Linked DNA regions of Homo sapiens. The protein of the gene in region 1 purifies or fractionates together with the protein of each later gene. This does not show direct contact. Each region holds a gene or a part of one and is shown in the gene's direction. Other genes may lie near its edges.

Evidence for each region.
Region 2: the proteins of OSR2 (region 1) and SCGN purify together in Homo sapiens (affinity purification with mass spectrometry; one large-scale study listed by BioGRID and IntAct). This does not show direct contact.

What each region holds. Positions count from the first base shown.
Region 1 is NC_000008.11:98,942,873-98,947,460, forward strand, and holds the start of OSR2 (protein odd-skipped-related 2), read left to right. Parts: upstream 1-1,569; 5' UTR 1,570-1,951; intron 1,952-4,588. UniProt on the Homo sapiens protein: May be involved in the development of the mandibular molar tooth germ at the bud stage.
Region 2 is NC_000006.12:25,699,701-25,702,554, forward strand, and holds the end of SCGN (secretagogin), read left to right. Parts: intron 1-1,506; coding exon 1,507-1,635; 3' UTR 1,636-2,083; downstream 2,084-2,854.

The sequences.
Region 1 (4,588 bases):
AAAAAAAAAATCTGAATGCTTAGGCATTCTGCTGCTTCCATTCTGTGTGTCAAATCTACTTTGAAGCAGTTAAGTACTGCAGGATATTAAACACTCGAATCTCCGTTTCAAGCTCACTTTTTAATCTTTGCGAACTTAAAATTGGAAAGACAGAAAAAAAATCTGCGACCCCTGTTATGTTTTACCAAAGGAACGAAAAATTCTCTCCACCTCGGCATAAATAAAATAGAAAGAATTTTATCTTAATAAAATAATATCTGGGAGCTTCTGCTTGACTCCCCAATTACTGCTTAACCTTTTGACAGTTTTTAGCCTCTGCTTGTATTTATCTACTTCCCCGCACGATTGAGATTTTTTGAATTGTCCTTTGGGGCGTCTCATTCAAAACCATCTTTCGACGGAACACTTTTGAATTGTACAGCCTCTTGGTTGAAGATCTACGTCCTCAAAGTGCGGGCTTGCCGTGGAGTAACACAGATCCCCTCTGGCAACTCGTCTGGGACGAAGGGCGTTTTTGCTTAGTGTTGATCACGCAAATCACATCTGAAAAGAAGCTGCTTAAAATGGGTGTGTATCATTCCCTTCCTGTCACTCGGTCACCCCTATTCCAGAGAGGTTGAAGTGCTTTTTGCAGTTACACTCACACAAGACCAAACCTTTAGAAGGACCTGAAAAATGTATCACTGCACTTTGAATTCTATTAACTTTCCTGGAGACTGAACATTGAACTCAATTTTTGCTGGGAATGAAGATGTAAATGTTTTGAAAAACTAGAATCGCATTTTCCTAAATTTTAAAAATGATTGTTCTTCACCAATTCCAGATGGATTCTTTATTCTTTGCCAATGGGTTGCAGATGCCCACTGTTTTAACCAAGTTGGTTTACTGCGTATGAAATGAACATTTGCCGATTAAAGCTTAAATATTGGAAGAAATTTCTCCTGGGGCATTCCACGCGTCTTTGCAATAATTACTAAATTAGTCAATTGCCACCTCTGTAAACAAACTTCGTTTAGAAAACAGCAGGCGAAAGCAGACTACACATGTAGTCATAATTGACCAAAAGTATGTACAAAACTGTTTAAAATTGGGGAAAGAGTGATTTATGCTGGAGAATGCAGTCTAGACCTGAATTATTTTACTTTACGGTGAAGGTAGTTGTATTGAATGTGTTAAGATGTGCAAATTAAGCCGGCGAGCGAACCAAATAAAAATACTAAATGCCCTTTGGGATTCTCTGTGGAGTCTTTGAGAGGCAGAGAAGCAGTTGTTGAGTTTCTAATGGTATAAGGAAAAGTGGCAACGAGAAGAAAGGGGGTGGGTATTGTGTTTGTGTGTGAGTTTTGAACTGAGTCACCTACGGCTGCGTCTCTATAACAGGGAAACCTCGAGCAAACCTGTGCCTTTAAGACTCAGTTGCTATCCAAACAGAAGTAAACAGAGTGGACCATTAGCAGACGCCGGGCGCGGAGGCGGAGCCAGGGCGCTGAGGGCCCCGCGCGGCGGCGGGACGCCCGCCCGAAGGGGAGGCGGGGCCGCTACTAAAGCCCAAGACTCCCGGCCTGGGGCAGCCTGGGGAGGGACGCGGGCGGGGACGGAGCTCGGCGTGCTTGCTGCTGGAGGGTGATGGCCCTGCAAGGCTGTGGGCTCCGACCTCACCGGGAGTCGACAGCGAGAGGTTCGCCGAAGAGCGAGGTTCTGGGCGAGCGCTGAACGCCGGCCCCAAGCACCCCGGGTCTTTACACAGTCCGCGTCCACAGACTCTGACGAAGACGTGGATCTGCTCTCGCTTTAGCTGCTCGCGGTCCTCCAGATCATGTCCGCGACTCCTGCGACTCCGCGCGGAAAAAAAAGTTTGCCAGGCGTGGACTCAATGACCTTTCCAAGCTGTGCGCCTCGCTGCCTGGACCGGGTCTGAGCGCGGCTGCCCAGGTTGACCTTTCTGCGGGAGGTGAGTGTTCGCTCTGGGAAGGGGCTGTAGCTGCCCTTTGGAAGGAAGGGTTTGGGGGTGTAAGAGGCGTTCAGATTCTCGGTCTGGTGTGCCCCAAATTCAGATGTGAAAATAGATCATGGGGATGCAATCCCAGGGCACTGTATTTCTCACTTCCTTGGGTCCCTGGCACGCGACTCCCAGCTAACACCCAACCACACACATTTCTACATACTGTTTCTTAATTTTGTTTTGGGATATTTAATCTAAGCGGTCAGCAAGACTTCTTATAAAAGCTGGTCTACGTACACTGAGATCAAACCCCACAATCCCATGGTGTTTCTGCTCCTGCCCTAGCAAGCCTGGGTCGACTTGTCCCGGGGCAGCCGCGGCAGCGCAGCGTGGACGGGCCCGGACACCCGGTGCCTGCCCAGCCAGCGACGCTGAAGGCACATTTCAAGAGGGAAATAGTTCAGTCCTCGGTAATTTGTCAACCTCGTGCTGGCTTTAAAATTCTCCTCCCACCTTCTAGTCCTGACTGAGGGGGCCCAAAAGCAAACTCCCCGGGGGCTTAAACGCTCGGATTCCTGAGAAACGGCAAGTGAGAAAGGAGTTGCAGTTGTACGAAGAAGGAGCGAGGAAAAGGTGTTTGTGGAGGGAGCCCCGGATCTGTCTTCCTACCTGTTAGCCGAGAACAAAAGGGGGCTGGCGTTTCCCGAAGCGAAAGGGCGCAGACAGCCACTTTCTCTGCTAAACAAACTGCAGTCCTGGGCAGAACAAGAAAATTACTCACGCAGGGGGAGCAAGGGGAGCACAGAGAAACAGAACCTAGATTATGCGGAAGGCATCTTAATTTAATTAACTCCTTGGGAAGGCAGAGGCGCTCTGAAGGGGCAGGAACTTCGCAGCCGTTTCTCTATTCACCTGATACAGTCTGGCCCTAACAATCTGTCCTTTAACAATTTTTTTTCTTTTTAATGATCTTCTTTGATCTACTTAGTCTATAGCTCTCTAATTTATATAAAATTCTGCTGTGGTTTGGGCTGAAATTCAGTGAGCCTACCTATCCGACCATCAGTCATTTATCTCATATACCAGTGCACAGGTTTTAGCAGATGAACCCTGACTGTATATTATTTTTAGATAATTCAGTGTAATATTACCATTACCAAAGAGCGAAACTCCTTATCAAGTTACTTCTTAATTTTTTTCTCCAATGTTTTGAAAGCTTCACTGAACTGAAATAAGTGTGTACACATCTTCCTTGGTGACAGCCAGTCAAGTAAATTTTACAAAATTTCTCCACATGCCTGGAAATTCCTGTGAAGAAGACTGATGAAAGAAAAGTAGCCTCAGCTCCACCAACATATTTATGACTTTTCATTGGTTTAAGTTTCTTTCCTTGCAAGATTAAAAGTAACCAGTGGTCTGAAACGGGACGGTGGAGAAATGACAGCAGATGATGATCGCTGTTATTTCCTGAAAGGGAGTGTGGGAACTACAAGGCTCAGCTCTAGACAAAACGAAAGTACTTTAGGATCTCTGCATTCACTTAAAATACTTCTTTTGACATACATTTCCAGCAACTCAATGGGAGTGTGGAAATTTAACCTTCCTAATTATTTGTGGCAAGAGCCATTGGTGGATATTTAAGGTTGTTCTGTTTGTAAAAGGGTTTCAAAAGGACCAATGGTTTGCTCTTCCTCTATGAAGAAACTATCTGCCCTACAAATTAAAACAAACAGGTACTATGAAATAGCACTTTTTTTTTTTACTAACATGAACCTGAATTATATTAGTCGTTAATTTCTGTATTATAAACCATTCAGAGAAAAGGGAAAGAAGATGGCACTCAACTTTGTGGCAGTGTAACCTTTATGGCAGAGTTCGCTGTGCCTTTGGTATAGAAATCACAGGTCACAACAGTACTTTAGCCAACACCACTCCCCCACATGCCCGCTCCCCCCTCCCCAACGCATACACCCTGTGGTGGGAGTTGTGCTTTGCCTCCTGTATTTATTTCTAAGAAATCTAGTCTGGGAATACACCCAAATAATAATTTCGGTTTCCTCTCTATGGGAAAGAGGTTGCTTTTCAACACGAAGGGAAAAATAATATTTTGAATCTCTGGAAAATCCTCATTACGCAAAGAGAAGGAAATAAAGGTATAAATTATTATTTTTAATTGAAAGGGAAATAATCAGGTAGATTACCAGGAATGTTAGTAGAATCCTTTTCCCCTGCCTCCCTAAGAGACTTGCCACCGAGCAAAAATGAATCGTGATTTGTGGTGGGAAAGTTGATTACTAATGGGGGTTTGCAGTTGCGGTTGAATGGTCTGACTGAGACCCTCTGACTGTTACCCACCTCTCATTAACTCTTAGCCTGAACTCCCAGACCGCATACCACCAAGCAGAAGCGATTCGTTAATAAATCTCTGTCCCGAGCCCTTCCAGAGGAAGGTGTGGGCCCCGCAGAGGCAGCCAGATCCTGCCTTGCCAGAGCGCTCTGTCATTAGCGTAGCCCCCTAAGTCTGCTCACAGATGGAACCATAGGCAATACTTCATAACGCGCTGGAGAGGACAAGTCAGACGCAGGAAGGGGTTGGGTGGGAAGGGAAGGCTGGAGTCTCTCCTGCCTTCCTGCTGGGTTCAAATG
Region 2 (2,854 bases), on another chromosome or scaffold:
CCCACCCATGTTGCCAGTTAGTTCTGTTTGTGCAAATAAAGGATTCAAACTTGCTTAGTTCTGATTGGTTATTGGAGCCAAGTTCTGATTGGTCAATAGAGCTGAGTCCTGATTGGTTAATTTAACTGAGTTCTGATTGGTTGGTTCGGGTGAGCTCTGAAAGCCCTAAAAAGAAAAAGGTGCTGGTTTTCAGGGTACTTGAGTAAGCTGTCATCTCTAGTCAAAAAAGGGCCACTTGGATCTATTTTAAATTTAGGGCCAGTGGCCGGGCACGGTGGCTCACTCCTGTAATCCTAGCACTTTGGGAGGCCAAGGTGGGCGGATCACCAGGGGTCAGGAGTTTAAGACCAGCCTGGCCAACAGGATGAAACCCTATCTCTACTAAAATACAAAAATTAGCCGGGCATGATGGCGGGTGACTGTAAGCCCAGCCACTCGGGAAGCTGAGATGGGAGAATCGCTTGAACCCGGGAGACGGTAGTTGCAGTGAGCCGAGATCACTGCCACTGCACTCCAGCAGGGACGGCTGCGACTTCGTCTCAAAAAAAAAAAAAAAAAAAAATTTTGGGCCAGTAAACCACGTGAGATCCATTTTGAAGGATGGGCTCTTTGATTTTGACGTTTATTCACAGATGCATCAGCACACATGTAGTTTCATTAGACCAGCCTTTTCTCCATGAGAATGGTATGAAATTTTGCAATGAGCACTCAATTGGAATCAGAGGACTATTGAGGACTGTCTCCAATTGTCAGAGGACTGTTGGACTATTCTTGGGCTCAAAAATGCTGCCACAACTTTCCAGCTTGGCAGGAAGCTTAAGCTTTCTCTGCACCTCTGTTTCCTAATTTGTAAAAGAGGTGGAATTATTTACTTCCCAGCATTATTGTGAAGCTTACATGAAATAACCTATGGAGAATCAATTTGTTAAAGCATTCCTCACTTTTGCAGGCCTTTGAGCTTGAAGTAAAAAACTTTTCCTAGCTAACATGTGTCACGTTTCTAGCTAACATTCTTTCTTGCCCCCTAACATATCCCTTGGAGTAAATATTACATCCCTAGCTCAACCACATGTTTTAAATTTACATTCAGTATAACCATTTTTTTTTAAACCAGAGGCACAAAAATCTCCTACAAGGAGATAATGAAATGTGTCTTCTCTCATCAGTGCAGCAAGGCAGAAATTTATGATCATAATTGCCTACTTTGCGGCAAAGTATCTTTACTATGGTTGCTAATAAGGCAGTCTTTTTCTAAGAACTGCAGGGAAGTGATGTGGAAGTAAAGGTTTTTTGGCCTGAAGGGACATGCTGAGAAATGAAGCTGTTGGCAGAAAACTTATCCTTGGCAGCATTTGGTGGGATGAGGCGATAGACTCATTCCCTCACTCCCTGTGGCCTGTCTCCTTCAAGGCAGGACACCCTAAGCTTAGGGAGCATCAGAGAGGGTGTTAAAGGGTGAGAACACCATTGGCTTGCCTGTTAACATGTTACTTTTGTCGCCCTCAGCCCAGCATCAGCGGGGTGGACCTTGATAAGTTCCGCGAGATTCTCCTGCGTCACTGCGACGTGAACAAGGATGGAAAAATTCAGAAGTCTGAGCTGGCTTTGTGTCTTGGGCTGAAAATCAACCCATAATCCCAGACTGCTTTGCCTTTTGCTCTTACTATGTTTCTGTGATCTTGCTGGTAGAATTGTATCTGTGCATTGATGTTGGGAACACAGTGGGCAAACTCACAAATGGTGTGCTATTCTTGGGCAAGAACAGGGACGCTAGGGCCTTCCTTCCACCGGCGTGATCTATCCCTGTCTCACTGAAAGCCCCTGTGTAGTGTCTGTGTTGTTTTCCCTTGACCCTGGGCTTTCCTATCCTCCCAAAGACTCAGCTCCCCTGTTAGATGGCTCTGCCTGTCCTTCCCCAGTCACCAGGGTGGGGGGGACAGGGGCAGCTGAGTGCATTCATTTTGTGCTTTTCTTGTGGGCTTTCTGCTTAGTCTGAAAGGTGTGTGGCATTCATGGCAATCCTGTAACTTCAACATAGATTTTTTTGTGTGTGTGGAAATAAATCTGCAATTGGAAACAAAAATGTACTGGTAATTGCTTTTGTCTTGTGACCTTTGAAATGTTCTACCTGATGGTTTGACTAACAAACCCCTTATCTAATGGGGATCGGGGGAATGGTGGAGAAGGAGAGTGAAGGGCAATATCTTAAAAGAAATCCACACCACCAATCCTTCTATAGTCCTCACATGCCCTCACTAGGGCTGACTTCCTGGTGAGCTGGCATTAAAGTGAGAGCTGCCAATAATCACTTTTTATTGGAAGGAGGAGACCAGAACACTCATCCTGGACTGGGGTTTGTTCTTAAGTGCTTGGTGAGCTCACATGGCTAGGCAGGTAGATATAGAGAAGAAGTATGAAGAAAATGTTTCCCAAGTAACCCGGGCTCCCCTCTCCATCCCTTCCTTTTCCAACAGTGCTCCCCAGCAAATCTGGGACCACGACAGCCTTCTTCTAGGTACGTGAGTGCCTCTCATGGGTGCCTCTGCATGCTCCTGGCCCCAACATGTGCCCTGCTCTCTTCTCTCCTGGAACTCTGATGCCATCCCCATGGAAAGGAGACTGTTGGGGCAAGGGGAGAGTTTCTGCAGGGTAGGCCCCACTTTCCTTTACTGTCTTCATCCTTTATTCTTCATAACACCCCTACCTTATACTAGACTGTGTAGTAATTTCAGGCTTAGTGAAGTGTTACAGATAATTCAGAAAAATTAGTGTAGAACAGTGTATTTAGAGCTGTTCATAACCCACGAATTCTGTTTACAGGGGTTCCCTTCATTGCACACCGTCGTCCTAACCT